2 linked regions of the Homo sapiens genome follow. The protein of the gene in region 1 purifies or fractionates together with the protein of each later gene. This does not show direct contact. Each region holds a gene or a part of one and is shown in the gene's direction. Other genes may lie near its edges.

Region 1 (3,652 bases):
TATTATTATTCTTGTTTTACAGATGAGGAAACTAAGGCACAGAGAGTGAATAAGTAACTTGTCTGAAGTCACATAGCTACTAGAAGTTAGAGACAGAATTTTATTGTTGGCAGTCCATCTACACAGTCATCATTCTTAATCTCCAAGTTATGATTTTTTCCATTGTGACTTAGAGTCACCTTCCTACTGAAATATAGTACAATGGATATCTTTTGAGAAGGAGGTAGGTGGAGTATTGTCTTTTTTGTAGATGAAAAGGGTGAAATACCACATTAGGCAGCCTGGGGGCAAGGCATTGCTTGGTTGGAGAACCAAGTGCAAGGTGCTAAAAAAAGGAGCTAGAACAGTAGTTTCCAGGCTGAGTGTGGTGGCTCATACCTGTAATCTCAGCACTTTGAGAGGCCAGGGTGAGAGGATTGTTTAAGCCCAGGAGTTGGAGACCAGCCTGAGCAATATAGGGAGACCTTGTCTCCACAAAAATATATATAAAAAAATTAGCTAGATGTGGTGGTGGATGCCTATAGTCCCAACTACTTGGGAGGCTGAGGTGGTGGGAGGATCTCTGAGCTTGCTAGGTCAGGGCTGCAGTGAGCCATGATCATGCCACTGGACTCTAATCTGGTTGACAGAGTGAGCCCCTGTCTCTAGGAAAAAAAAAAAAAAAGGAGTAGTTTCCTAAAATCTTTTCTGTAACATTCTATAATTCTTCATTTTGTTTTGTTTTGTTTTTTTGAGACTGAGTGTCCTTCTGTCACCCAGGCTGGGGTGCAGTGGCACGATCTCAGCTCACTGCAAGCTCCGCCTCCCAGGTTCACGCCATTCTCCTGCCTCATCCTCGCGAGTAGCTGGGACTACAGGCATCCACCACCATGCCCTGCTAATTTTTTGTGTTTTTAGTGGAGATGGGGTTTCACTGTGTTAGCCAGGATGGCCTCGATCTCCTGACCTTGTGATCCGCCCACCTCAGCCTCCCAAAGTGCTGGGATTATAGGCTTGAGCTAGCGCGCCCAGCCTAACATTCTATATTTCTTTCTCCTAGTTCTATGTTTCAATTCTTTAAATACTTTTAAGGGTTTTTTTGAGACAAGGTCCTGTTGTGTCAGCCAGGCTGGAGTGCAGTAGCGTGACCATAGCTTCCTGCAACACCTCCAATTCCTAGGCTCAAGCGATTCTCACTCCTCAGTTTCCTGAATAGTTGGGACCATAGGTATGCACCATCATGCCCAGCTAATTTTTTAATTTTGTAGAGACAGGATCTCGCTATGTTGCCCAGGCTGGTCCTTTTTTTTTTAAATTTTATTATTATTTTTTGAGACGGAGTCTTGCTTTGTCACCCAGGCTGGAGTGCAGTGGCGTGATCTCGGCTCACTGCAACCTCTGCCTCCCGGGTTTAAGCGATTCTCCTGCCTCAGCCTCCTGTAGCTGGGACTACAGGCACGTGCCACCGCGCCTGGCTAATTTTTGTGTTTTTAGTAGAGACGGGGTTTCACCATGTTGGCCAGGATGGTCTCGATCTCCTGACCTCGTGATCTGCCCACCTCGGCCTCCCAAAGTGCTGGGATTACAGGCGTGAGCCACCGCGCCCGGCCTGCCCAGGCTGGTCTTGAACTACTGTCCTCGAGTGATCCTCCTGCTGTTGGCCTCCCAGATTGCTGAGATTACAGGCATGAATCATGCACTGCAGCTTTTAGGATTGTTATTAGAATCCTCTACAAGTTCTTGATACTCCATAATTGAGCCTCTCCTAGAAACTTGGTTTCAGAGACACTGTTGCTAGGTCTTTATCACTGATTGTTCCTTCTTTGTCCTTTTTGCTTATCTTTCTGCTTGTTTCTTTCTCTTGTTCAGTATGCTTCTACTTTTCTCTTCTCACCCTTGAGGCTAGGACTCTTCTTTGAGACAGGGTCTTGACTCTTTTTTGAGACAGGGTCTTGCTATGTTGCCCACGTTGGTCTTGGATTCCTGAGCTCAAATGATCCTCCCACCTCTGCTTCCTGAGTAGCTGGGATTACAAGTGTACACCACAGTGCCCGGCTTGGGGCTAGAACTAAATAGTAAACCAAGCAGTTTCCTTCATTTCTTCCCATTTGCCCACCTACCTGCCTTTCTAGCTGCTTGCCTTCCTACTTCAATTTGACATTCACTTGGTACCTACCATAGTCCTCTTCCCTTTGTATTAGTCCATTCTCACACTGCTATAAATAACTACCTGAGACTGGGTAATTTATGAAGAAAAGAGGTTTAATTGACTCATAGTTCCGCAGGCTGTATGGGAGGCAGGGCTGGGGAGGCCTCAGGAAACTTGGAATCATGGCGGAAGGCGAAGGGGAAGCAAGCATGTCTTCACATGGCTGGCAGGATAGAGGGAGAGAAGGGGAAGGTGCTACACACTTTCAAACAACCAGATCTCTTGAGAACTCTATCATGAGAGAGCATTAGGGGAATGGTGCTAAACCTTTGGAAACCACCCCTATGATCCAATAACCTCCCACCAGACTGCACCTTCAACACTGGGGATTACAATTTGACATGATATTTGGGTGGAGACACACAGAGCCAAACCATATCACCCTTTATTTATCTTTTATGTATAAAAGACTCCAAAAATTTCATTCCTGGCTTCTCACATAAACTACTTTCCTATATTTTTATCTATTTAAAAGATATCTCTCTCTTTTTCTTTTAAAGTTGAGACAGGGTTTTACTATGTTGCCCAGGCTGGTCTTGAAATCCTGGGCTCAAGCATTCCTCCCACTTCAGCAACCTGAGTAGCTGGACTACAGGTGTGTGCCATTGTGCCTGGCTGCATCTCTGTTTGAATAGTTTTTTTTTTTTTTAATTTATAGAAATGAGGTCTCACTGTATTGCCCAGACTGGTCTTGAACTGCTGAGCTCAAGTAGTCCCCCCATCTTGGTCTCCCTAGTAGCTGGGATTATAGGTGTATGACACGATGCCCAGCTCTATTTGAGTAATCTGTTTTTTTTTGTTGTTGTTGTTTTTTTTAAAGACAGAGTCTTTCTGTGTTGCCCAGGCTGGAGTGCAGTGGTGCGATCTTGGCTCACCGCAGCCTCCGCCTCCTAGGTTCAAATGATTTTTGTGCCTCAGCCTCTCGAGTAGCTGGGACTACAGTGTGCCACCACGCCTGGCTAATTTTTTGTATCTTTAGTAGAGATGGGGTTTCACCATGTTGGCCAGGCTGGTCTTGAACTCCCGTCCTCAAGTGATCCACCTGCCTTGGCCTCCCACAGTGCTGGGATTACAAGTGTGAGCCATTGCGCCCAGCCTCTATTTGAATAATCTTTAACATCCTATATATGTATGTACTCACCAGTATTTCCTTTAAATCTGCTGTTCTTCCTACCTTTCTGTATCTTTCATCACTATCACAATTCAGTTTTTCATTTCCCCAGGCTAAGGAACTATAAGTGTTTGGATTTTATTTTTTATGTGTTTATCTGGGTTATTAACTCTTCTCAGGTCTTTTGCCAAATATACGTGTGTGTGTGTGTATATGTATGTGTGTATACATACATATATAAAAGTTATTTAAATCAAAACTATACATCCATATATTAATATTTAAAGACTTAGATAGTTTTATAAAATGTTTGTTACAAAAAAATTATAAGGGAGTCCTCTGCTCCCTTTCTC
Region 2 (3,652 bases), on another chromosome or scaffold:
AGTAGTATTAATCAGTGGTAATATAGACGACTTGCAATTTGCCTCCTTTCCATATCCTCTGAATTTGGTTGTCCAGGAAGCAAATTTAGATTAAAATAATCTTCTGTAAGTATATGCTTGCTGCCCCAAATACCCAAAACAATAACCCTCATATCCCTAATACTCATCTTTCTCGAATACTTTGCCAATCACATGACTGTAACAGTTTGTACTGTAACAGTTTGTCTTTCCCATCACCAAATCTTGTTATTACTGGTAATGTTTGATGAGCAAGAGAGAAATAACTTCAAATGTTACTGTCTCTTCTTAAGTAGAGCTGTTTGCCCTTCATCTATAAGATAGTATCTGTGTATAGACGTCACTGTTCAGGAGCACTTTTTAGAGGCTGTTACCTTAGCTGCAGATTGGTTTTTGGCAAGTAATAATTTTTAGTTTTTATGTTATGCCACAATAATGTGTAAGTTTTCTATTTTTTTATTTCTTCAAATTCCCTTTACCACAGTTTTCTATTTTTTGTAGAACTATTAGTTTATAGTATTCAGGTTTATTACTCTATTATTTGTCAAACTTACTAGTTTACATTATTACGTTTATAGATTCCATGTCCAATGACATTGGGCATAGAAGCATCGAATTTTGTGTCAAGGCTGGGAGATGGAAACATAAGTGAATACATTTGTGGTAGACTCAAATCCAACTGACTTAGTTAAGTCTTAGGTAGTAACTTCTTCATGGTTATCTCCATTAAGAGGGAAAACTCACTTTTGTACTATTAGGTATTTCTTCTCTCTGAGATGTGAGGGATTGTCTTGCCGAGTTCAAGGGGTCTCTGTTCTCAGGATTATTGGCTTTTTAACTCTCCTTTCTCTCAGCCTTTAGTGACTTTGCAGGCAGTCTTTGCTTATTTAAGCCTCTATGAAAGTGATAGACCTGGTAGTTCAGGTCTTGTTATCCTTAAGATAAGTTATTCCAACACAGTAGAAAAGTATGCTTTTGGTGGGTTCTTCTGACAGGTACTAGACAGTCTATGACAGCTTGTTGTGTTGAATGACAAGCTATTTTCTTTCTTCCTTTTTTTTTTTTTTTGTTGTTGTTGTTGTTTTTCTGAGACGGAGTCTCACTCTGTCGCCCAAGCTGGAGTGCAGTGGTGCGATCTCTGCTCACTGCAACCTCCACCTCCCTGGTTCCAGCAGTTCCCCTGCCTCAGCCTCCCGTGTAGCTGGGATTACAGGTGGACGCCACCACGTCTGGCTAATTTTTTTGTATTTTTAGTAGAGACGGGGTTTCACCGTGTTGGCCAGGATGGTCTCGATCTCCTGACCTCATGATCCGCCCGCCTCAGCCTCCCAGAAGTGCTGGGATTACAGGTGTGAGCCACTGTGCCCAGCCTTCAACACCAAAGTTGTAAATTTCTAAGACCGTCTTAGCTAAAACCATTTTCTGAGAAGTGTGCATGTGTGAAACATAATTTCCTTGAGGAAAAATTTACTAATAAGTCTAATAAACCTCATAGTTTGGATATCCTTGAACCTCTTAAAATGTGGTTTTGTACTTATATTTCATTTTTAGATGCCAACACTATTTGTGGAGTCAGTTTTGGAAGTGCATGGTAAATTTGTTCAGCTTATCAACACTGTTTTGAATGGTGATCAGCATTTTATGAGTGCGTTGGATAAGGTAAGTTTTAAATACATATATACTATATATGTACATAAAACTCTATCATTCTTTAGGCAGTTTCAAGATCAGAATTCTAGTATGAGGTTTCTGATGTAGACATGGAGATTAAGTAATTTTGATATGAAATTCAAAATAGAAATAATATAATTTTTAAATTATTAACTGAATAGTTAAATTGAATGCTTGTAGAATGTCCCGTGATTATGCTATATAAGGGGAATTTTTAATCTGATATGTTCTGGATAGACATGCATAATTTTGCAATTTTTAGTACTGATTTTTTTTCTTTGGCCATAATACTTAGGCTATATTGAATAATATTTGAAAAGAGAATAGATATGTTTTACATGAACTTTTGCATACGTTAAAGGAAAGCTGCTTACAAGATTGTAAGTTTTTTTTTAAGTAACGTTATTTTATCTGTTCAAATTTCGATAATGAGTTACAGAATATCTTGGAATAGCAACAGGATATATAGATATTTTGTAATTAGAGAATAAAGTCAGAGGAGTCTACCATGTTAGGCATGAAAATATTAACAAACTACCGGCAATGCTGTGTTTTATGTGGCGGGGTAATTTTTGGATGTACAGATTATGGCTTATATTGAACTAGCTGTACTTTTTCCCTATGGCTGGTGGTTAATTATGGCGTGTTTTTTTATTCAGGCCCTTACGTCAGTTGTAAATTACAGAGAACCTAAGTCTGTTTGCAAAGCACCTGAACTGGTAAGTTTGGTGGTTGCTGAAAAGTAATCTTATGAAAAGTCAGTATTAGAAAATGAGAACTCAGAATATCAAATTAATTTGGTTTTTGTAGCATTTTTCAGAAAAATAGAAGGAAAATTATCTACATTGTATATAGTTTGGCATTTATGTAAGGAATGCAATATACTATGTGTCTTAAAGAATAACCATTTTACAAAGTTTGGGTTTTAATGTATATCTACTTTGAAATAATTTGCAATACTTTTCATGTAGATTCTGTTACATCTGAAATCTAAAGGAAATCTGATGATAAAGTTTGGGTAACCTTTGAAGGAAACTTGCTTACAAGATTTTTGTAACTTTTTTTTAAAGTACTTGTTCAATGTCAAAAATTATAAAACCACTCGAAACTCACCTAGGTGTTCTTTTAAAAATTTGTATTACTTATATCAGTTGCTTTATTGGTCAATAAGTGATGATTTGATATTTGACTTGTTCTTTTTAAAAATTTACCTTATGATGTATATTTTATTTAGTTTACATTTATGATTATTACATAAAGCTTTAGAAGCCTGGTGTGGTTGTGCATGCCTGTAGTCCCAACTACTTGGGAGGCTGAGGCAGGAGGATCCTTTGAGCCTAGGAGTTTGAGGCTGCAGTGAGCTATGATCTTGTCCACTGCAATCCAGCCTGGCAACAGAGCAAGACCCGGTCTCTAAAAAAAACAGCAAAAATTCTGTCCGCTGATCTTACCTTGTATCACCACTTTGCCTCCTTTGAGGCGTGATATATACAGAAGCACCCTTTGTAAGATTTATTATCAATTTCTACATGAGCTTGCTAAGTACTGTGACAACTTACTGAAGAAGTCAGCGAAAGGGATGACAGAGAATGAAGTGGAAGACAGGCTCACGAGCTTCATCACAGTGTTCAAATACATTGATGACAAGGACGTCTTTCAAAAGGTATGTTGTGAACAGAAAAGTTTCATTTGTATTTTGGTCAACTTTATTTCTGAATGCTAAATCATTAGAAAGGAAGTAATCTTTTAAAATATTTTTAAATGTAGTTCTACGCAAGAATGCTGGCAAAACGTTTAATTCATGGGTTATCCATGTCTATGGACTCTGAAGAAGCCATGATCAACAAATTAAAGGTAATGTAAGTCTTTAATGTGGTATTGTCCTAGAAATTCATTCACAAGCACATAAAGATGTTCATTGCAGCATTGTGTACAGTAACAGGAAACAATTCATCTGGTTAAA

The links. Proteins that work in one complex are often made in the same cells at the same time.
Region 2: the proteins of ARNT (region 1) and CUL2 purify together in Homo sapiens (affinity purification with western blotting; 2 studies listed by BioGRID, with this or other methods). This does not show direct contact.

What each region holds. Positions count from the first base shown.
Region 1 is NC_000001.11:150,866,557-150,870,208, reverse strand, and holds part of ARNT (aryl hydrocarbon receptor nuclear translocator), read left to right. Parts: intron 1-3,652. UniProt on the Homo sapiens protein: Required for activity of the AHR. Upon ligand binding, AHR translocates into the nucleus, where it heterodimerizes with ARNT and induces transcription by binding to xenobiotic response elements (XRE).
Region 2 is NC_000010.11:35,031,191-35,034,842, reverse strand, and holds part of CUL2 (cullin-2), read left to right. Parts: intron 1-1,569; coding exon 1,570-1,677; intron 1,678-2,348; coding exon 2,349-2,408; intron 2,409-3,223; coding exon 3,224-3,352; intron 3,353-3,456; coding exon 3,457-3,543; intron 3,544-3,652.